Homo sapiens: one gene and its partner. The protein of the gene in region 1 interacts with the protein of each later gene in a biochemical or structural test. Each region holds a gene or a part of one and is shown in the gene's direction. Other genes may lie near its edges.

Evidence for each region. Proteins that work in one complex are often made in the same cells at the same time.
Region 2: the proteins of SNX18 (region 1) and RAB11FIP5 form a complex in vitro, tested with the Homo sapiens proteins (one study listed by IntAct).

The regions. Positions count from the first base shown.
Region 1 is NC_000005.10:54,513,178-54,521,219, forward strand, and holds the start of SNX18 (sorting nexin-18), read left to right. Parts: upstream 1-4,581; 5' UTR 4,582-4,775; coding exon 4,776-6,396; coding exon of another isoform or gene 6,397-6,662; exon of another isoform or gene 6,663-7,869; intron 7,870-8,042.
Region 2 is NC_000002.12:73,081,544-73,088,948, reverse strand, and holds part of RAB11FIP5 (rab11 family-interacting protein 5), read left to right. Parts: coding exon 1-70; intron 71-199; coding exon 200-899; intron 900-7,285; coding exon 7,286-7,405. UniProt on the Homo sapiens protein: Rab effector involved in protein trafficking from apical recycling endosomes to the apical plasma membrane. Involved in insulin granule exocytosis. May regulate V-ATPase intracellular transport in response to extracellular acidosis.

The DNA.
Region 1 (8,042 bases):
CTGGGTTCAAGCGATCCTCGTGCCTCAGCCTCCTGAGTAGCTGGGACTACAGGTGTGTGCCACCATGCATGGCTAATTTTTTTGTATTTTTAGTAGAGGCAGGGTTTTGCCATGTTGGCCAGGCTGTTCTCGAACTCTTGACCTCAAGTGATTCACTCACCTTGGCCTCCCAAAGTGCTGGGAGTGCAGGCTTGAGCCAGGCTTTCTATTAAGCCTAGCTACAAACCTTCTAGTAAATGGCTGTTGCTCTTCATTTTACTTTATTTATAATATATAAAATATATAAAGTATAAAACAATATTACATATACGTGTGTGCATATGTGTGTGTACACACATATACACACGCATGTGTGTGTACACATATATACACGCATATGTATAAAATGTATACCTATATAATTTTTATTTATATATAAATTTATATATAATATATATTTATATATAATATATAAATTTATATATTATATATTTATATATAATATATAAATTTATATATATTATATATTTTTATATAATATATAAATTTATATATAATATATATTTATATATAATATATAAACTTTTATATTATATAAATTTATATAATATATAAATATATAATATATAAATATATATGATATATATAAATTTATATAATATATAAATATATAATATATAAATATATATGATATATATAAATTTATATAATATATAAATATATATGATATATATAAATTTATATAATATATAAATATATATGATATATATAAATTTATATAATATATAAATATATATGATATATATAAATTTATATAATATATAAATATATATGATATATATAAATTTATATAATATATAAATATATATGATATATATAAATTTATATAATATATAAATATATATGATATATATAAATTTATATAATATATAAATATATATGATATATATAAATTTATATAATATATAAATATATATGATATATATAAATTTATATAATATATAAATATATATGATATATATATTTATATAATATATAAATATATATATCATATGTATAAATTTATATATTATATAAATATATATGATATATATAAATTTATATATTATATAGAAATTTTAATATAGTATATATAAATTTTTATATATTATATATAAAATATATATAATATATAATATATAAATAATAAAAAATTGTATATATAAATTTTTATATACATAAAACATATATATGTAGGTGTGAGCCACTGTGCTGGGCCTGGATGCTGTTTAATAATAGTAGTAGTTTTGAGGCGCCAGCAGAGTGCAGACCTGTGACACAGTGAACCGAAGTTCTCAGGACAGCTGAGTAGCTGCTGGGTCATTCCTCAGTCACCTGACCTCAGCAGACGACCCTCTCTGCAGTTGGCTGTCCTGATCTGGGATAGTGGGGATGGCAATATCTGCTCCATGCATGGATGAGTTGGTGTGAAAATACGGCAGGAAATAACACAGGAAAGGTGTAAGTGCATCTAAAATCATATGTACATATTTGTGTAATGCTTGATGCATTACATGAGTGTTTTCAAGTAAAATATAGTGTTAATTTTAATAATGACCCACTCTGTAATAGTGAAATTTCTAACAATCTGAAAATTTGCAGTGGTGTTCTGGGTGGTTGTGTTACCTTTAACGTTGTTGATTTAAAGAGGAGTGTTACTTAGCTGCCTTAGAAACAGTTACAGCTGGGTGGCAGAGGGCACCAGGCAAGCTGACCCAGACACAATAAGAGCTACTGGAGAGAGCTGACTTCATCTAGGGAGGATGTAAGTGGACATTCTTTCATTCATCTAACAAATACTAACTGGTTGCCTAACATGTCTGTTTTGTTCATTGCTATATCCTCAGTGCTCAGAAAACCTCATTGCCCTGAAAAGGTTTATGTTGTAATAGGGGAGGCCGTTAATGTATAGACGTGTTTATCTTAGGTCATAGTTGCTACAAAGAAAAGTGAGACTGTGGGATGGACAGGGGATGGGAGGGAGGGAGGGAGATTATATTAGCATAATTAGTACCAGCTGCCTCAGCAATCTCTGAAATTTCAGTGGCTTAGTCGGACAAAGGATTTTTCTCTCACAAAGTATGATTGGGGTCGGTGACTCAGGGACCCAGGCTCCCTCTGTCTTCCGGTATCTCCAAGGAAGGAGAAGAAAGGAGGGATGGAAAGCCCCATGGTTCTGACCGAATGAAGCGATGATGTGGCATGGTGGATCTCCCGGGGAAGAGGGCTCCAGGGAGAGAGAAAAGCGAAGGCAAAAACTTCAGCAAGAAACGTGCTTGACTTGTCCCAAAAATAGCAAAGCAACCACTGTGGCTTCTTTCAGTGGAAAAGGGGGCTGGAAAGATAGCCAAGGGCCAGGCTATCTAAGGCCTCTCAGGCCAAGGGAGGAAGTAAGAAAATGCAATTGTTTGGGGTCATTTAGTGTCCCCTAAAAACTTTACAGAAGCATATGGGTGGTTATAATGATTGTGTAAACTAAACTGTGAATAATATGCTCCATTTTCTAGAGAAATCTTTACAAAATGTGTTACTGTATCTATTTCCCTGAGTGAACAGTTATAGGTTGTTAATACTGGAGCACAATTTTCTACATATCTAAGACCCTCTAGAGGTAGGGGTTTTCCTGCCACTAGTGGCCATAGGGCCAAACATCATGACAGCCTGTCCTCATCCTTCTGGAAGCCTGATGCGCGGCAAGCACAGAGGCCTCCCACTGGACTCCTACAAAGTAAGCACCTGCAGACGCCCATGCCCCAGTGCTACAAACAACCTTGGACACCCAATAATTCCTCAACCACCATTTCTACAGAGTAGCTCAACCAGTCTGTAAAAAATCATCACCTTAAACTCCTGGAATTTTCACACCTGAAATAAGCCCAAAGTTACTGTACTTAACTCTAATCTAAAAAGTAACTACTAAACGAACAGAAGGGGCGAAACTAAATTTATTTATCTTACATATTCTAGGTTAGCTTTTCAGAAGTAAAATGAGTCATATTCTAGAGGTTTAGTTAATGTGGACTTCATGTTTCTGACCACATGAAATGTTGGCATTGAAATTCAATGATCCCTGTTGCTTACTGTGAGAATAGTCAAAACCCAGAATTTTCAGCTAAAAATGTAATTTAGAATATGCTTACTGAATTGAATTAAGGTTTTGCATTAGGATAAACACTGTGGGAGTGATTCTGGTATAGTGGGTTTGTGTTTTTGTGCAAGATGCTTACAATACCACAGCCCTTAGAATAATTGTACACTCTTCTGGCCCGTTTCCCAGGTTTCCTTGAAAAGGGTCAGAGGACAGGCTGAAATTAATGACACATGAATGCAGAACCTCAATTAGAAGTGTCTTCAAAGGAATAATTAGGCTAGACTTAATAAGAGGGGATTAAGAGAAGAAAAAGCTTTGGGCAAATTATACACTGAAGGAAAGGAAGATAGGAAACAAGGCAACGATAGATTGGAGCTGATTATTTCAGGAAGTGATTTTTGTTCTATTTATCTTAAAAATAATATAAATATAGTGAGACATAGAGACAACAGATGGATGGATGGTCACTGACCTCTTACTAGGAGTGGCAATGTGAACATTGGGACGCTTCCTGGTGCATGTACCCTGCAATTGTTAGTTTAGTACCCCTATTCCCTTTGTGAAAGAGGCCAGGGATTTTGCTTCCCCCAAATAACAGTAACAGCAGCAAAAGCAGCAACAAACCCTTCAAATCTGCTTACCCTGCCAGATATTGTTTCACTTTCCTCATCTGTAAAATAGGGATTACTTTATGATGGAATCCCCACAACAACCCCCGGAGGTAGGTACGATATAAGTGCCTTGTTCCAGGTCATACAGCTAGGTAGTGTCAGAACACAGATTGAAATTCAGAAGCCTGGCTCCGAAGTTTGAGCTCTCATTCACCGCACTACATATATCTATGGGAGGATAGGCGACACATGCATGTAATAAATGTGTGAGCATTTATTGTACTGGAAACTCTCCAGCTCCTCCCTCTCTACATGATCCTTTGCTTCTAATTTTGTCAATCACAGCACCTTCCCTGGCCCTTACTTTGTTCTTGCCAATCTCCTCTCCTTGAGCAGAAGAGGGAAGGGAGCCTGCTCTGTAGGTGAACAGCTCCTCCGCAGAGGCATCCTGTTTTCTTAGTGCAATCACTAATTCGCATTGCAAAATGCTTTATTACATGACTGGGTTGCCATTCTAGGAGCATTCACTGAGCGCTCAGAGTGGGAACGTTTATCAGGCATGCAAATGCTAACTTACTTTCTAGAGAATGTTTAACTTAAAAGCCTAAAGAAATCTCAGATAATTCACTTCGGAGTAGAAACCTCCTTCAGCCGCGCTCACTACGGCGCCCGGCTTCGCGGCACCGGCCACTAGAGGGCAGTGGCCGCCGCAAAGCCGACGCGGGCGGTGGGCTCGGCGGCTCGGCCATCGCTTGCTCTCGCCTGGCAAGGGGCTCTCGGCCGTGGATTAGCGCAGCTGGAGACGTGGGAGGCCGCGGGCCCCGCCCCCGACCGGCGGCGGCTGCGGCGGCCCAGCGCGGCAGTCGGCGCTGCGAAGTGGAGGCGCTGCGAGCGGAGCCGCGCGGAGGGCGCGACCGGCTGGTCCGGGCAGCGTGGGTTTGCCGCCTTCGGGGCTCCAGTCCGCGCGCCAGGGCTCGAGCAGTACCGCGGGCCCCTCAGGTGGGCCTCGGCTCGGGACGCCGGGAGTCGGGACCGCCAGTCGGGGCGCCGGGACCATGGCGCTGCGCGCCCGGGCGCTGTACGACTTCAGGTCGGAGAACCCAGGAGAGATCTCGCTGCGAGAGCACGAGGTGCTGAGCCTGTGCAGCGAGCAGGACATCGAGGGCTGGCTCGAGGGGGTCAACAGCCGCGGCGACCGCGGCCTCTTCCCGGCCTCCTATGTGCAGGTGATCCGCGCCCCCGAGCCTGGCCCGGCGGGAGACGGCGGCCCGGGCGCCCCGGCCCGCTACGCCAATGTGCCCCCCGGGGGCTTCGAGCCCCTGCCTGTCGCGCCCCCCGCCTCCTTCAAGCCGCCGCCTGACGCCTTCCAGGCGCTGCTGCAGCCACAGCAGGCGCCGCCTCCGAGCACCTTCCAGCCGCCCGGCGCGGGCTTCCCGTACGGCGGGGGCGCCCTGCAGCCGTCGCCTCAGCAGCTCTACGGCGGCTACCAGGCCAGCCAAGGCAGCGATGATGACTGGGACGACGAGTGGGACGACAGCTCCACGGTGGCGGACGAGCCGGGCGCTCTGGGCAGCGGAGCATACCCGGACCTCGACGGCTCGTCTTCGGCGGGTGTGGGCGCAGCCGGCCGCTACCGCCTGTCCACGCGCTCCGACCTGTCCCTGGGTTCCCGCGGCGGCTCGGTCCCCCCGCAGCACCACCCGTCGGGGCCCAAGAGCTCGGCCACCGTGAGCCGCAACCTCAATCGCTTCTCCACCTTCGTCAAGTCCGGCGGGGAGGCCTTCGTGCTGGGGGAGGCGTCAGGCTTCGTGAAGGACGGGGACAAGCTGTGCGTGGTGCTGGGGCCCTATGGCCCCGAGTGGCAGGAGAACCCCTACCCGTTCCAGTGCACCATCGACGACCCCACCAAGCAGACCAAGTTCAAGGGCATGAAGAGCTACATCTCCTACAAGCTGGTGCCCACGCACACGCAGGTGCCGGTGCATCGGCGCTACAAGCACTTCGACTGGCTGTACGCGCGCCTGGCGGAGAAGTTCCCGGTCATCTCCGTGCCCCACCTGCCCGAGAAGCAGGCCACCGGCCGCTTCGAGGAGGACTTCATCTCTAAGCGCAGGAAGGGCCTGATCTGGTGGATGAACCACATGGCCAGCCACCCAGTGCTGGCGCAGTGCGACGTCTTCCAGCACTTCCTGACGTGCCCCAGCAGCACCGACGAGAAAGCCTGGAAGCAGGGCAAGAGGAAGGCCGAGAAGGACGAGATGGTGGGCGCCAACTTCTTCCTGACCCTTAGCACGCCCCCCGCCGCTGCCCTTGACCTGCAGGAGGTGGAGAGCAAGATCGACGGCTTCAAGTGCTTCACCAAGAAGATGGACGACAGCGCGCTGCAGCTCAACCACACGGCCAACGAGTTCGCGCGCAAGCAGGTGACCGGCTTCAAAAAGGAGTATCAGAAGGTGGGCCAGTCCTTCCGCGGCCTCAGCCAGGCCTTTGAGCTGGACCAGCAGGCCTTCTCGGTGGGCCTGAACCAGGCTATCGCCTTCACCGGAGATGCCTATGACGCCATTGGCGAGCTCTTCGCGGAGCAGCCCAGGCAGGACCTGGATCCCGTCATGGACCTATTAGCGCTGTATCAGGGGCATCTGGCTAACTTCCCGGACATCATCCACGTTCAGAAAGGTAAAGCCTGGCCCTTAGAGCAGGTGATATGGAGTGTATTGTGCAGGCTGAAAGGGGCGACTTTGACAGCAGTACCACTGTGGGTTTCAGAATCATATTCTACAGGTGAGGAAGCGAGCAGAGACGTGGACGCCTGGGTCTTTTCCCTAGAGTGTAAGTTGGATTGCTCGACAGGCAGCTTCCTCCTCGAGTATCTTGCATTAGGGAATGAGTACTCTTTCTCGAAGGTTCAAAGAGTACCTTTGATGACAGTGCTATCATTTTAGAGTTTGAATAGTTGAGTAATGAGCTGCTCAAATCTGTAATCTTGAGACGAGGGTAGAATTAGAAGGGGACCTAAACCATGTTAGGTATCTGTTTGAACACTGCACTGTCACTTAGTGGTGAGTTTCAAAAAGTGAGGAAATAATGGAGAAGAACGGATGTCTGTAAATAGAAATCTGCTTTCACCCTTCCACACCTCTCAATCTCTGCTTTGGTAGAGGAATTAAGATCAATTCTCTGAGTTTAAGAAATTCCTGCAAAGAATTCTTGCCTGCAACCTTTACGAAGTGAAGTAATTTCAGGAAAAGCGTACTCATTTTGAGTTTGAAATCTATTAATGTACTGAAATTGAGAACGTTGTTTAGGAAAATTGTTTAGGGAAACTACATAGAATGAATATAATCTGAGTATTGGATCTGAGAGCAGCGTTGCTGGTATCCCAGTGAGTTAGCTGTCCAACTATCAGAGTTCATGAGTTATTAATAGTTGTTAGTGTCTCTGACCTTTGCTAAAGCACCAGAATTTGCAAATTAAAAAAATATATAGCAGTAGTGCTTGTCTTAACATTTCTTACTAATGTGCATTCTCATATAATGCCTTGATTGAGAGAATGGGGAGGTGTGGGAGTTAGGGAGGCAGTCTTGCCTGTGAAAGTCCAGTGTAGGGGCGGCTGGGCAGGGAAACCTACTCCTGAGCAGGGAAACCTACTGTCCCTGTTTCCTCAGCGGGTCTGGCCTTTACTGGTGAAGTGCTCACTGCCTTTCTGGTGGGCCAGTCCGTTTATGAGCAACCCTGATCTCTGGCATGTCTTTTCTTGTATTGAACTGAAGTTTGCCTCCCTTGATTGTCTTTCTGTTCCCTGGGACCGCCTTCAGACATTTGGAGACAGCAGTCTCGCTTCCTTCCTCTCTGCTTCTCTCCTTCCCCTTCCAAATGCGTGACTGGTCTTCTGACTCCTATGGGGGAAGGGGCTTGCTGGGAGAATGATCAAACGTTTTCAGTCTTGTTGCTGCCGCTGAAAGGGAGTACCCTGGACATCAGTACTAATTTTAGTAGACAGTAGTAACTTTCTTGGCAATTTGCGATTTGTAAATGCAGTCTAATATTGAATTCGTTTTTTGTGCAATCATATTGCTGTTGGCCTGTATTAAACCTGTATTTACATTACCTATGCCTTTTTTTAAAACATAAATTGTTATGAATCTTTGACTTTTTTGACTGGTGTTGGTGGAACTGCCTTTGTGAGCCTTTAATGGAGGGATTTAGCATTTAAATTCCATTGTGTTACATCATTCTGGACCTATGCTGGCTGCCCTTTTACACATTTCTGTGAGTTTGTGCAAATTACTGGTGAACAGTTGAAAGGATGGAACCAAGTACAG
Region 2 (7,405 bases), on another chromosome or scaffold:
TACCAGGGACCTGGCGCCGAACTCCTCACCCGCTCACCAAGCCGTAGCAGCTGGCTGTCCACTGAAGGGGGTGAGCAAGCACAGGGCCGCCGCCCTGGGGAGGGGGGCACTGGCTCTCCCCTTGGGTGGTGATGAAGGCCTGGGGCCAGGAAATGGGGCCTCTCTTCCTGCGAGCTAACTCTGTGTGTTTCCCCTGCAGGCAGGGACTCTGCACAGTCCCCCAAGCTGTTCACCCATAAGAGGACCTACAGCGATGAGGCCAACCAGATGCGAGTGGCTCCTCCTCGGGCCCTTCTGGACCTTCAGGGCCACCTGGATGCTGCCTCCCGCTCTTCGCTCTGTGTCAATGGGAGCCACATTTACAATGAGGAGCCCCAGGGCCCTGTGCGGCACCGCAGCTCCATCTCGGGCTCGCTTCCATCCTCTGGCTCCTTGCAAGCTGTCTCTTCCCGGTTCTCCGAGGAGGGGCCTCGTTCCACAGATGACACCTGGCCCAGAGGCAGTCGTAGCAACAGCAGCTCAGAGGCAGTGCTTGGACAGGAGGAGCTGAGTGCTCAGGCTAAAGTCCTGGCCCCTGGGGCCAGCCACCCTGGAGAGGAGGAGGGGGCCCGGCTACCAGAGGGCAAGCCAGTCCAGGTTGCCACACCCATAGTGGCCTCCTCTGAGGCTGTGGCAGAGAAGGAGGGAGCCCGGAAGGAGGAACGCAAGCCCCGGATGGGTCTCTTCCACCACCACCACCAAGGCCTAAGTCGGAGCGAGTTGGGTCGCCGAAGCTCTCTGGGGGAAAAGGGGGGTCCCATCCTGGGGGCCTCCCCACATCACTCATCCAGTGGGGAGGAAAAGGCCAAGAGTAGCTGGTTTGGCTTGAGAGAAGCCAAGGACCCGACTCAGAAACCCAGGTAAGTCGTTGGCAAGACCAACTTTGCTCCTTGGGGAGGATGCTGGGGTGTGTGCTGCCTGGACCCTGGGGCAGGGAGGAAGGAGTAGATATGGACCTCAGGCAGGCTGCTGGGGCTCTGGCTTTGCATGGTTTAGTGGGGTGTCTCCCTAAGCCAAGGTTCGTTCTGTGCTCACGGACACAGGTGAGTTACGAGGGCATAGTGCTCTGAGAGTCCTATGGATTGAGGGGTCCGACTTCTCAGCCCTAGGCCTTGCTGCATGAGTTGGCATGCCCACCCCCTGAGCTGGAGGGAAGCAGGAAAGTCCATTTGTGTGAATTCTTTGCTTCCTGACCTCCACCTCTTGCCCTCTGGCCTCAAGGTAAGGAAGCCTTGGTAGAGAGATGAGGACTGGAGACCGCACTCTCAGACTTCCCTTCCCCTCTCTGGAGCTAGAGGACTTCTCCCCAGCTGTCTCTGTGATCACTTCCCTCTGGGAGACGGGAGTCAAATAACTGAAGCCACCACTCCTTCCCCCGTCCATTCACCTGCCAGTTGCTTCCCCAGGCAAGAGGCTGTGGGCAGCTCCCATGAAATCTGTAACCCATCTCTGTCCTTGGAGACCCTGGGAGCTCTGGCCCTCTCTGATGTCTCTTGGTCTTGAGGTATGGCACCGTGGGAAGTGCTGGTGGCAGCTGTTTTGTTTTGAATATACTGAGTCCCCCATTTCAGGCCCTGGGCAGAGACCCTGATGCCTACCATTTGCTTCCTCCTAATTCTGAGCCAGGAGAGGCTGCAGAATTGTATAGCAGGGTCCAGAGAGGGGCTCCAGGTACAGGTCACAGAAGTGTGTGTCGCACCTTCCCAAGGGCCTGGGGCCAGCCCTCATAGGCAGCATCTGTGGCAGCCCTGGCCAGTGTGGTGAGAGCACTGTTTCTCTCAACAAGCCTGCCCTTCCCGCTCCATGGCTGCTTGGACAGGTTTAGAGGACAAGCACAGTAACAAGGGGGCAAAAGATAGGGCAGAGGAAGGACCCTAAACCTGTTGCCCAGAGGGGAGAGGAATCTTGTAGTCCTGGCTTTTTGTTTCCCTGTGGCACTCTGAGTCTGTTGAGAGGAGTGGAGAGAGACATGCAGGCCTTTCTAGGTTTGGGCCATGGTCAGCTGACAATCCCTGTTAGACCCTCATAGATAGGGGTATGGGGGGGTGGATCAGTTTCAGGGGCATGCCACCCCTTGCCTCCCTTGCTTGGTATGGCAGCTCCTGTCCCTACTGCCCCGCCCCTACTCACCAGAGCTCAGGTGAGCTGCTGGCCATCTGCGGCCTAGGGGAAGATTGGGAAGAAGGGGACAGGCCTTTCCCAGATGCCAGGCTGAGCCTGGTGTCCCTGTGACAGCCAGCCAGAGGTATTTGGAGGTGGTAGGGTAGAGGGAGGTAGCAGGAGATCTGGACAGGGCATTTGCTGGGAGGAGCTGAGGGCCTGGATTGAAAGGGGCACAGAGCACAGGCTCAGTGTGGTTGTGCGTACGGTGTCTCTGGGCCTTTTCTGGGGCAAGGTGAATGCTGGGGCCATTTGTAGGTGAGTCCTGCCCAGGCTTTGGGCTTGGACTCCCACAGGCTGTGAGTCTGTGGGGTTGTCACTGGCCTGGGGCACTTACAGTCTCCATCCTCTTTCTCCTGCTTCCCCATATCTCCTAATGGCCTCTTGGAATCTGGAGGATTTGGGTCACTGATGGCCATAAGGAAGCTGAGGTTTCTGTCCTGCTGTCACTTGAATTCTGAGCCTTGTCTTTAGCAGGATGGAGGGCACTCAGCATCCCTCCCAAGATGGGGCCTATTTGCAGGTGGCGGCTGCAGGGCCAGGCTCTGTGGCCGTGCATGCAGATGGGGTGGGAGGGGCTGTGCTTTGGGTAAGATGGCCTGGCCTGGACAGATGTGACACCTGGCCTTTGAGCTCAATCAGCAGCATCCTGGCCTTGTGTGCCTTGCAGGGAGGGGAAGGCTGGCCTGGAAGAAAGGACTGTTGGCGCTTCCCCAGAGGGCTTGCTTAGGGCCTCTGAGGAGAGAAGGAGAGGTGGGCTGCCTCATGGCAGGAAGCTGTGGGTTAGACCCAGAACTGGAGTGACTGAATGTAGCTGCAGGATCTCCAGCTGGGGCCTGGGGAGCCTGTCCCCAGGTCCAGAGAATGGGGGCCTCTGCCTTGGGGCTACCATTGCAGATTGTGGGATGTTCCTCACTAGGAAGAACAGCGGCGCCCTCTAGTGCTCCCATGTGGCACTGATGCCCCACAGAGAGGCCCGGGGCTGAACGTGTTGAGTATGGTATCCAGAGAAAGGCTGCTGCCGTGGGGAAGGAACAAATGAGGCTATACAGGGCTGAGAAGAGGGTCCTGCTGTTCCTCTGATGTGGCCTTTGTCTGCTGGGGGCCATGGCAGTCACACTGGGCCCCTACCAGTGTGTGCTGGAGCAGGGAGTAGGTAGTTGAGACCAAGCTTGTCTTGGCCACAGGACTTAGCCTCATTCCCCTGCCCTGTTATGAGCCATTCACACTGAGCTGCAGCACAGGCTACTTCACGTGTGTTTGAGGACAGGCAAGACCACGCATTTTAAACCCGCCAGGGCCAAAGTGGATTGTCTTTGTGTCTATCCCGGGTCATCCTTGTGTTCCCTTGTTCCCCGCCCCCCACACTAACCATAGGACTCTATGCACAGAAGGGGATCAAATGTTGATTACAAAAACTTTTAAAGTTGGGAATAAGTGTGGTACAACATAGAGATGAGTGTATCATGATGGTGGCCTCTGGCAGTCTCTGCAGTGCCTCCCTGCACCAGGTGTGGTAGGCAACAAGGTCCCTCCCTGTGGGCCTGGAATGTGCTGTGGCAGCGGAAGGAGCTTGGCTGCATTCTTGGTGGTGTAAATGAGTAACTATAATGTGCTCCCAGTGGCTTGGAGTTAGTGCAGCCTCACGTCCTGCTCTCCTCATGTGCTCCTCACAACCATGCTCTTGTCATGGTTACTGTATTAACAGTGTTCTGGTTTGGAAGATAAATGATACGTTCTCCCTACTTACAGCTTACAAGGCCCCTGTCACCTCATTGTGCCCAGGTGATGGGAGAGGATGTACCCGTCTCTTGGACATGTTTCCTGCACGTTGGGCCCATCTCAGGAGGGTCAGGAGGTCGTGCCTCAGGATGGAAGGCTGAAGGGCAGTGTTGCTAGAGATGAACGTGCCTCCAAGGCTGGCTTCGGCCTTTGGGGGATTGCCTGGTAGAGAGCTTGTGCAGATTCACTTGCCATCTCTGGGACCAGTGTGTGGAAATAACAAGGACACAGAGCTCTTTTCAGCCCAAGGAAGAGTTGTCTGCTAGTGACACCTGGCCTTCAGCTACAGAGGTAGCCCTGTGGTGTAGTGTTTAAGAAGAGGGGCTGTCAGGGTGAACAGGTGGTTCCTGTGTTGAGTGGCAGGTTCAACCAATTGTTCAGAGCTTCCTGCAGGCAGTAAAGTTTTATTCCCTCAGGTTGAAGGGGCAGAGACATCTGGACTTCTGACTTCCTTCCCAGCATTTGATCCTAAAAGAGAAGACAAATCAGCATATATTGCTGCCCCCACCGCTTGGGGGTGGGGAGAGTGTGCCAGGCCGGCACAGTAGGTTCTAGGATGCAGAGGTGTTTATTTGTTCTCAGAGCATGACCTGCAAAGACAAGCATACGTGGGAATATGTTCCTGACCTGGGCCAGGTGGAGTGGGAGGGAGATGTTTTGAAGTGAGAACCTTCAGAATGTGCACTTGGTGTGGAGCAAGGAAGAGGAAGGCATGAAGGAGGGATGTGTTACCAGATAGGAGGATGGACAGATGCCCTCAGAAGTACTGCTGGCTCTGTAAAGCCTGCCAGGCCTGGTGCTTGGAGTCCCTTCCTCCAGGGAGAGCCCTTTGCTGATTCTATACAAACAGGTTTGTGTGTACCTCTGGGGAGCTGGCCGGGAGAGGGAGGTTGCCGAGCCTAACCTGAGGCTCCCAGTCTACTCCCCTGCCGCTCTTGTCCCTGCAGTTCTGACTGCCAGCCAGGTTGCTGAAAGACTGCAAGGGTGAGTGCAGGCCAGGTTAGGGCTGAGGGGGCAGAGTTAAGCGTAGTGCTTTTAATGTTGATGGGACTCTCTTCCTTCAGACCACTGTGGCCTATTGTCATAAAGGGGGCTGGGGAGAGAAGCAGCTCAGAGTGCTCTAGCCCTGTTCCTGGGGGCCCGGGTCCTGTAGACAGGGTTGGGCTGGGTGTGGTATGGATGCACTAATGGCAAGTGGGCTGAGGTCAGGCTCTTGACCTGGTGGTGGTGTATGTTGCTTCTCACTCCCCTTGGTCCCCACAGCAGGCATGTGTGCCTTGGCCTGGGGCTTGTCTGGAATGAAGGGAGAAAGGGCATCTGCTGGGGTTGAGGCTCTGGGCCCACGATTCTTCCTCTTTTGGTATCTTCACCATGTCCATAGAAGCAGGGTAGTAGTGGAAGCCCAGGTGGGGTGGGAACAGGTGGGAATTTTTACCTCCCTCTCCCTCCATCTTTAGGTGGAGGGGATGAGACTGAGAATTTACCTTTGGATGGGGAGTTATTGTAAGGGGAAAAATAGGGTCAGGAGACTCTCGGGAAACTGATTCTTACGAGAAATCCCTGGGTTTGGGACCTGTGAGGCTGACCTCCCTTCTCCCAGAACCATCTTTGGAGCTACCTGTGCCTCTGTTTAGTTGGACTCCTTCCTGTGGTCCGCCCCTGGTGGTAGCTGCCGAGCTGACCTGCCTCAGTCCACCTCTGTGTGGGTCTGCCCTCTTTGGGCCCTGGGTTCCTGGGAGAATCCGGGCAAGCTCCAGACAGCTCATGCTCTTTCCACAGGTGCCCTTCCTACCCCAAGCCACACTCCTTATGGGCTGGCTGGCCAAAGCCCGGCTTCTGCCCCTTCAGGACTCACTGTCTACATTTCCTGTGCAAGAAGCTGGTTGGCTTGAAAAGTCGGATGTGTAGGGGTTTCCCCAGGATATTTCCACCTGGACAGGCAGGAGCCAAGGAACAGGGGTCCTGGAAGCTTAGAGCCAGGCCTGGGAGACCAGCCATGAGGAGGGAGACTGCTTAGAAGGCAGAGGGTGAGGCCACCGAGGTCTGCCTCTGACGGTGGCTCAGTGGCAAGGCAGCCATTTTTTCTGGCCTTCTGTCTGGGTCCTAGGGAAGTGAGAAGCTCTAGTTTGAGAGCACGCCCCTGCCCGCATCTCTGGAGTCGGCCTCACTCTGTGGATAAGCACCAGTGCAGGGGGCGTTTCCCCCAGAAAGGACCCTGTCCTGGACAGATGAAGGCCAGAACCTGTTCTCCAGTGTCCTAAGAGCACCTGCCCTGTCCCCGTCCCCAGAGTCCCTGAGAAGCCCCTGGTGACATCCAGAGTTGCTGCTGCTGTCACACTGCCAGCCTTGGCAGACAAAGGCTGGACCATCAGGGCACCTTTTGGTTGACGTTCTCCACAGGTGGCTTATATTCCTTAGCCAGTTAGGCTGCCCCTCAAAGAAACAAGACACCTTGTCACACCCAATGACAGCCCGTCATTACTTCTGCTTCTGCAAGGGATCAATAGAACCCAGGCTGTTTCAAGTGTCAGAATTCTAGGTGCCCTGCTAGGTCCTATAAGTTCTGGTTTTGTCCAGCCAGATACCTAGGCCTGGCCTTTCTCTGGTCTCTTTATCCCCCCATGCCAGCTGGTGTTTTCTTTGCTTTTAGTCCTAAAAGGGGCCAGGCTTAGTGGCTCATGTTTGTAATCCCAGAACTTTGGGAGGCCAGGTGGGCAGATCACGAGGCCAGGAGTTCGAGACCAGCCTGGCCAACATGGTGAAACCTCATCTCTCCTAAAAATACAAAAATTATTCAGGTGTGGTGGCACACACTGAGGCACAAGAATGGCTTGAGCCTGGGAGGCAGAAGTTGCAGTGAGCCAAGATCGCGCCACTGCACTCCAGCCTGGGCAAGAGACTCTATCTCAAAAAAAAAAAAAAAAAAAGGGATGTAAGGCGCTTTCAGATTAGTTTTCCCAGATGTAAATTCCTTGTTGAGTAGAACCTTAGAAGCTTCAGCATGGGATAGAGGAAAGAACACTTGGTTAGGTTTGGATCGGATCCTGCCTATCAGATGAGATGATTTCTCTCTGGGGTTGGAGTGAGCATTAAAATAGCTTTGCCTGGCATATTTCTCCTTGGGAGGCACTTGATAATGTTACATGTTGGGGTCTTCCCTCTGTACCCTGGCCCAAGTAGGTAAATCCAGCCTATGTGTGTGTTATGGCCCCTGGTCCCGAAGCAGGGGGTGGGGCGTGGGACTCAGGGGCCTTTCCAGTCTTGGCATTAACCAGGAGGCTCACGGTTTTGTCTCCCTCCACAGCCTGGACGTGTCTCCTCAGGTAGAATCTGACCCAGCTGCTCTTCCTCACCACCTCCCCTGCTCCCCCTGGGCTCCGGCCCCTCCCACTCCTGCTCCCACTGCTGCTCCCATGCTAAGCAC